Homo sapiens: one gene and its partner. The protein of the gene in region 2 interacts with the protein of the main gene of each other region in a pairwise test. Each region holds a gene or a part of one and is shown on either strand. Other genes may lie near its edges.

Region 1 (4,183 bases), on a different chromosome or scaffold from region 2:
AGGTTTGACTCTTTCCTTCTTGCAAGGTGGAAATCTTGGTCACAGTGTGTAAAAGGGTGGAATTGTCCTTAAGAATATAAAAATGGTAGGATGAACGCTAAGATGGTAATCCTTAACACCTCAAGTATTTGGTAATGGTACACACCTGATACTAGGCTTATCTAAACGCACTAAAGAAACAGGCCTTCTGCAGTCAAAAGGTGATGCTTTTGTCACGCAACTTTTGAGGGTCAGGGTACAAATAAGAACAGACATGGATGGAGGTAATATAGAGAAGGGAGGAGTTGTTAAACAGGATCCAAGTTGCAGTGGAGGTGAATTCCACATTCAGAACAATACTAAATCCTTAAGTTTCAAGTTTACAGCTACTGAAACCCACTGAAGAGGTAACACTGCCCATTTCTGGAGCCAGTCAGGGCTTTCAGCAACCTCTCAAGGCTCAGAAGTGGAGACTGGAACGTCCACAATCTAAATTTCACACACTTTTTGTGGAAAAAGTTACAATAGATGAACAATAAGGACATATGCATTGTAGGCTTGGCCCTACACCAAAAAAAAAAAAAAAAAGTTTACTGGCCCAGATACAGAGATGTGTTGGTGTACCAAAAACACTCACAGCTATATGGAGACAGCAGAGCCTGGAAAAGAACCAGGTCCTGAGGTTTTGCAGTTAAAAGTTATGATGGGGATAAGAAAAAAATTGTTGGCTCATTTCTGAAATGTTTGCTCATCTTTTACCAAAAATGTCATTTACATATTAGGAAACTGATTGGGAAGACTTTGGTTAAGATAAAGCCAAAGTAAATTTTGGTCCATCTTGACCTTGAACCAGTTTGGAAATCTGAACAAGAGTTTTTGGATTATTTGGGGTTTTTTTTTTTTTTTTTTTTTTTGGTGTATGGGAGGGCATAGCAAAGACACGGCAGTGTGTGAACGGGAAGTATAGCACAAGCTGAGGAAGTCTGGCATTTGAAAAGTATCGCCTTTAAACATGCACGTATAAATTCCTGCCTGTAAAAGAAAGAAAAAATTTTAAGATGCATTTATAAGTTTTAGATAATCTGGTTATATTTTATAAATCTATATATAAGTATAGATGTTTACTAATCTAGATTTGTTTCAAAACTCAATCTCTGCATTTGAATCAAAAATAAACTTTTACGGCTGAGTAGCAGGTGAAATGATGGGGAAACCAGGAAACAGAAACTGCTAATTCGATTAATAATAAGCCAGTCACACGATTTCTAAACTGCCTCTAATCCAAAAAACCTCTACCTTTTCTAATCTCATACTGATTATTCTACGAGATGACAAACTCTCAATATGACCTCCTCCTATCCTCAACAATTCTTGAAGGAAAAGAAAAAGAAACTTCTAAGGAAATTTTTTAAATGCTGAATTTCTCTGGCATTGAGCCATGTGTAGATTAAACATCACTTAATCCTCCAACAGCTCTAAGGCAGTGGTTTACAAGCTACAGCGTACATTACAATCACCTGGAGGACTTGTTTTAGAGATTGTTGGGCTCCACCCCCAGAGTCTCCGATTCAGTAATGGGGGAACGCCCACCCAGGTGGTGATGCTGCTGCTGCTGCGGCAGGTGGGGGCACTCTGAGAAGCGCTGCACTAAGGTAATATTAACGTGTGGCCCTCGTTCTGGGAAACGCGTGCTGTCTGCAGCAGAAATTGCCAAGATTTTGAAAACTTTTATAGCAGTTTACCATTACATGGCATCGAAGCACGTGAACATTTTTCTAGTATTTCACCCTTATTGTATTTTCCCAAAGTACTGATGTGAGAACGACTAGAAAGTTGTCCAAGTTTGTGGAGCATCGCTTTAAGCTGACCCAGCATACGGCAGCCCCTGCCCCTGGGGACAGCGGGGCCGACCTAGGGCACGAGGGGTGACTAGGGGTGACTCAGCCAGAACACTGGCCTGAGACGCAGTTCCACACTTAAGGTTTTCATCGTCTCGTCTCATTCCGGCATTTCCCGGGACAACACTCGCACCAGCCCCGCTGCAGGTGCCCTGGGTCCCGGCGGCCGGCGCAGAGGAGACAAGAAAGGAGGGCGCAGGCACAGCGCCGCGGGCGCCCGCGAGCAAGGCCAGACCCCAGCGGCACATTTCCTGCCCAAAACTTGGGGCCGCGACGGTATGCACTCCGGGTAAGTGAGACCGATGCACTAGATTCCTTCAGAATGCCCAGTTTGGCTCCAGAAGATGACGAGCCAAACAAAGACAAAGGGACGTCAGTGGACCCCAGCGTCTCCCCGGCCACTGCCGGCGCCCCTTCGCGCCTGCGCAGACCCCCACCCCGCGACCCGCCCGAGGCCAGCCCACGGCTTCCTTCCGGGCAGCGGGCGCGCTGCCGCCGGGCAAAGGCGCGCATGCGCAGCGTCGCCGCCCGCGCCTTCCGTGTGGCCAGTGCTTACCCGCTACAGGGGTCTGTTCCTTCCGGCCCGGCAAGGCCTCCTGGGGGCTGACGATGTTCGAGGCCGAGTTGCCCATCCTCGGGACGGGAAAGAGGCTGTGGAGGAGGAGGAGCTGGCAAGCCCTCCGGGTGGCCGAGAGCATGGGAGGGCGCCAGCCGAAGGGTGGTCCCGGGGGACGGCGCTACCGGCAGCGGAGCCGCAGCCGGAACGGCAGAGAGTGGGGTCCGCGGCCGGAACCGGGGGGCGGCAGGGGCGCGGGCGGGCGGGCGCGGGGCGCTGCTGGCGGGGCTGGAGGCCGCCCGTAATCGAGGTTGCCCAAACCCGGGGCCGTACCGGCTGTCACCGGGGGCGTGTTCCTTCCCTGGACAGGGGGTGTGGCCCGGCGAGTTCCTGAGGTTCTCTCGGGACGAAGTTCTCGGACAGAGAACAAGTGCGCTCCTGTCGTACGAAGTACGTGAAGCTGCAGAGGCCAAAAAACACGCCGAGCCCTTGGGGATGCGGTTTGATTTTAAAGTTGCTGCCGTGTCGCCCCGACTTCGCAGTTTAGCAGTGCCCAGTAAGATAGAAGAGGACCTGCCTTGCAGCCAGCTAGACTGTCAGTTTTTATTGGAGACATTGTCATGACGGCCATCAGAAGGGTTGCTATTCGTCCAAAGTGAAAACTAAGCACAGTTCTCAAAATGCGCGGAATAGGGAAGATGAATTCAATATTAAGTTATGTATTTACAAACATATTTAAGCCCATTTTGCAGCGGCCAAAATACGGGAGCAAGGCACCAACAGCACCATTAAGGCAGTGTAGGTGGACTTAATGGTGGTGTTGTATTATTCTTGTTTCTCAAATCATAGGAGATGACATTTGTTCCTGTGACATTCTCAAACTAAATGTAAAGTGGTTGGAGCGAGGTGAGTGACTTGGGAGTTCATCTGTGTGAGATTTTGGCTTAACACATGTTCTGCCAAAATGGGCAGGTCGTCTCAGATGAGGGAGGGAACTTCAGATTAGCACCCACAGAAAGGAGGCTTTCACCCAGCTTCTTGCATGGATTTAGTTACCACTTTGTTTTCATGTGGTCTGGACTGTAAGGAGGGCAGGAGGCTTAGCAGTGCTATAGTGTAGAATGAGGTGTGTTGCCAGGCATACAACACTAAAAAGGCTCTAGCTTTGATTTTGTAATTTGTATTTCCCCTGGACAAAATGATACCTAAACTGTTTGTTATTGCTATGAGGCTATACCAAGTCGGTTCCACAGGCCTTTCATGAAAACACCCCCAGGAGTCCCTTCTAGGCTTGCGAAGGCCTGGTCACTATTAAGGGTCTGAAAAAATAGTCATTCTGTCAAAGACAATATTTTGTGTTTTTCAGTTACTTCTTTTTGATACATACTGATTTGTCTGTGTTTTGTGGTTGATTGTATGAAGTTTCACATGCTAGAAATACTCTGCAACTAAGAGCTGAAGAATGTTTAGTGTGAAGAAATAACTTACTTGGCATGATGGCTCACTCCTGTAATCCCAACACTTTGAGAGGCTGAGGCAGGAGGATTGCTGGAGGCCAGGAGTTTGAGACGCCATCTTTACCAAAAAAAAAAAAAAAAAAGGTATTTAAGTAGTTGGGCATGGTGGTGTGGTAGCGCACACCTGTGGTCCCAACTACTTGGGAGGCTGCACCAGGAGGAACGCTGGAGCCAGAGAGGTAGAGGCTGCAGTGAGCTATGATCACACTGCTGTGCTCCAGCCCGGGCAACAG
Region 2 (4,028 bases):
CAAGGCAATGGAACAATGCCTTCAAAATTCTGAGAGAAAATTACCTCCAACAATTATATACCAGTTAAATGGTTGAATATGTTTTAGGGTAGAACAATGGCACTTTCAGATATTCAAAGTCACAAAACAATTTATCTCTCATTAACAATCCTTTTCTCAGGAAATTGCTGAAGGGCATGTTCCCCTAAAATGAGGGAGCAAAGCAGGAAAGGAGATAGGGGTATAAGAAACAATGGATCCAACAGGACAGAAGCAAAGGAAGCCCCAACATGATGGTGAGGGGAAATCCATGATGAGAGCAGGAAAACCAGTGCAGTCTGAAGGAGACTAAGCAAACTGAAAGGAGATCTTCAGGAACTCTGGAGAACCAGCAAAGTCCAGGGAGAATTAACCACAGGTACATAGAAAATTAAGCAAAGGGGGGAAAAAGACAATTATAAACTAGGGAAAACAAACAATTGCAGGAAAGGAAAGCTAGATAATATGCTACATGTTCACCTGTGAGCAGTGATTACATAGCCATAATAATGTAAACATTTGAGTAGTGATCAATCAAAATTAGAACTATTCTGAGAGATAAAGGATAGGAAAGTGGCATGTATGTGGTAGACGCAGGGGAATGAAAGAAGGCGAAATTCTCATCTTCTACAGAGGGGGAAGTCACAAGAAATGCCTAAAGCTAAGAAATGAAGAAACTGCTATACCTCAAGTTATTTAGAGATATGGAAATAAATACCAAAAGAATTAGATAAAATAATTACCTCTAGGGAGTAGAAAGCAAAAAGGAGGGCTGATTTTTTTCTTAAGCTTTGCAAAACTTACTTTATGCTTTGCACATATGTAACTTTGCTTAAAAAACATTACATAAGAAAAAGTCATGTCATGGTACATTTTATATGTATTTTAATCATTTTTTTTTAAAAAGCAGATGGGATAAAGCTAAAAATGCAGTGTAGAAATGAAAATATCAGGAGACTGGAAAATAAGTGCACAGAAAAGGAAGACTGAAAATCACCTCCAACATTTAAAGGGGGCACTGAGAAAGGAGAAGGAAGAGTGTAAGAAGGGTGTATCATGTGCTGTAATAAGTGCCTTAAACTCACAGGAGAAATTCTATTGCCACAGGAAATCAGTTGGCAATTAAGAAATAAAGTTTTTCAACTCCATAATAATTTGCTTTCAAATTGCAAGTTTTAAAAAACAAAAAGAAAAAAACAAAACCTCTTACCTGCTTTTCCAAAAAGTGTGCAACTCTGGTCCTCTGTTCTTTTGGAATGGTAGGAAGGACCTTATCAGCCATGCTAAAGTCCCTCCGCATGACAGCTGTCTGGTATTCCAGGACTGAAACCAGCAGGGAATAGCTAATGATGTTCAATTCTTTATCCCCCAGATAAAGCCTGTTGTCTTTAGGAATGTAGCCTAGGAGATACATCGTCCTATAAAAGAAACAGAAACCAAGTTAGAAATTCAAATCTGCAATTACACAAACACACACCCCGCCAATCTCCCTCTTGCTCAAAACCTTCCCATTTGATTGACACAATTCTGGTTAACAATAGGCAACCTACTAAAACTATAACACTGAAAAATCAGCCTATCATTGCTACAAGCCAGCAACAGATTTTTCTAAACACACTTTAAAATTTAGGACAAATGCAAAATGATACTCAGGTACCTGTCCAAGTGGGCAATGGTGACTATTTCTCCTCCAACATAATAATTTAATCTGTTCACAGAACTTGTGTAAATGAAGCAATCGCCTACCCAAAGCCCTGTTTTCACAATTTCCTGAATCTCACCAAGAACCTGCAGAAAGAAAAATAAAGACAATTACTTTATCCAACATCAGAAATCTCTCAATAAAAAGCTGAATATATCTGAGGGTGATATGGCAGAATAAGGAATGCAAAGTAAAATCCTTCCTATTTCTAGAAAAAAAAAATTTTCCTTGGAATTTTTTTTTTTTTTTGAGATGAAGTCTCTGTTGCCCAGGCTGTAGTACAGTGGCGTAACCTCTGCTCACTGCCAACTTCTACCTCCCGGATTCAAGTGATTCTCCTGCCTCAGCCTCCCAAGTATCTGGGATTACAGGCGCCCGCCACCATGCCTGGCTAATTCTTATGTTTTTCGTAGAGACAGGGTTTCACCATGCTGGCCAGGCTGGTCTTAGACTCCTGACCTCAAGTGATCTGCCCACCTCGGCCTCCCAAAGTGCTGGGATTATAGGTGTGAGCCACTGCACCCCGCTGGAATTTCTTTCTTCATTTAAGAACAGATTCCTACTCAATATAACCCTTAGGCTCAAAACAGAAAAAAAAACAAAACAAAACACAGAACAGATTCCTAGATTAGTATTTGTAATGTGAAATCTCATTGTTGGGTCAAAATCATGATATAAAAGAATACTGATCTAAACTTAGACCCTTCATAACATGACAATGAAATATTAAGTATTTCACAAAATCTAGGACATCTGCACAATAAATGATTTACCATTTGGGAGCTTATTTAAATCACTGACTAAATAGTCTTAGGACCAAAACAACTATAATTTCTTTACTGAAAGATATCAAAGTAAGTCTAAAGAATTCTTAAAATCAAAGTACAAATTTCTTTTAAACATATTTATTTTAAATTTTGATCTATGAGTTACGATTTTAATTTTTCACATTTCACCAGAAATCCTTAAATGCTGTCTCCCTACACCTAATTTATAACGAAATGTTAAAATCAGTAAAGTCTGTTGTAAGAATATAAATCATTTAAAAACAAAGCTGAAAGCGAAAGTTGTGCTGATGCAATTACCTCAAAGGCATCTTCAATGCCATCTTCAGTAACTCCCTCATGTGTTTCCTGTGCAGCCAAGACTTTTTCTGACAGATACTTAAGGATAAAAAATGATTCCTCAGTAGCAATACAGACTAGCTCTCCAGAGTCAGACCAGAAAATCTGCAACACAACAAAATCATAGACAACTGATTTGGATTTCTGAGTGGATATGACAAACTGCACATACTTGGTTTCTTACAACATTTACCTTCTTATATCAAGATGATAAGTATTCACTTAACAATTTTATGTGGCATTATTTGGGAGGGTGGCCAGCTATTATGTGGCTATGCTATTTAGCCTAGCAATGGAAAGACCAAAGGGAGACAGGAAAGGAGAGCTGTCAGTAAACACTGAATGTGCTACACAGAGGACCAGTAGCCTATTCCCTCTTGCTCTAGAACAGTGTTTATCACCTTTTTTATTTTTTTCATTTTCACCCACCCTCCCTAGAAGTCTTTCTGGACATTTTTCTAATCACCTCCCCCAATGAAATTTTAATACCACAGATATACATATATAATGCATATACATATGTATAGCTATGCTTTATTCATAAAGAGTAAGCCCCCAAGTCAATGTTTACACCCACTGAGGATGCGTGCTCTAGAACCAGACCCCAGAAAAGCTGGTTTGTTTCCAAAGATAATCTCCTGACAGTGAAAACTGTCAAAGCAGCGGGCAGTTCTAAAGGTAAACACTTTGTCACTGGAGATGGTCACCTCAAGTTCAAGCAGCTATCATCAAAATGTATGAAAAGGTTTTCTGAACTATGTGGAAGAAGGCATTTCCAAGTCAAGAATTCTCTGACTTCTTGTTCTCAAAGCATGCTTTTTTCCTGTCAAAATGGCACTGCCACTTACCTCCAATTGCTCAGAAAATCAGGATTGTTGTATCCTAATGAGGCCGTAGACAATGTGTATTTCAAAAGTATAAGAAGTTATTTAAATTCTAAGTGCTGTTTTATATTTTAAATGGCTTTTGATAATCGAAGAGGGAGAGCAGGGTACAAAAGACACTTCTTGGCCTTAGGGACCCAGAACTCATCACAAAAATAAATATTCCAAAAACAACAATGGAGGGGAAACTCACATGTTTGGGCTGAATTTCAATTCTTCGTATGAGTTCTGTATTGTCCCAGTCATAGAAGGCTAAGCCATTTACAGATCTGACTCCCAATAAGAAGCCGCCGTAGATAC

The links.
Region 1: the proteins of COPB2 (region 2) and MSRA interact in a two-hybrid assay, tested with the Homo sapiens proteins (one large-scale study listed by BioGRID).

Annotation. Positions count from the first base shown.
Region 1 is NC_000008.11:10,052,909-10,057,091, reverse strand, and holds the start of MSRA (mitochondrial peptide methionine sulfoxide reductase isoform a precursor), read right to left. Parts: upstream 2,801-4,183; 5' UTR 2,576-2,800; coding exon 2,434-2,575; intron 1-2,433. UniProt on the Homo sapiens protein: Has an important function as a repair enzyme for proteins that have been inactivated by oxidation. Catalyzes the reversible oxidation-reduction of methionine sulfoxide in proteins to methionine.
Region 2 is NC_000003.12:139,365,340-139,369,367, forward strand, and holds part of COPB2 (coatomer subunit beta'), read right to left. Parts: coding exon 3,922-4,028; intron 2,950-3,921; coding exon 2,806-2,949; intron 1,807-2,805; coding exon 1,676-1,806; intron 1,437-1,675; coding exon 1,229-1,436; intron 1-1,228. UniProt on the Homo sapiens protein: The coatomer is a cytosolic protein complex that binds to dilysine motifs and reversibly associates with Golgi non-clathrin-coated vesicles, which further mediate biosynthetic protein transport from the ER, via the Golgi up to the trans Golgi network.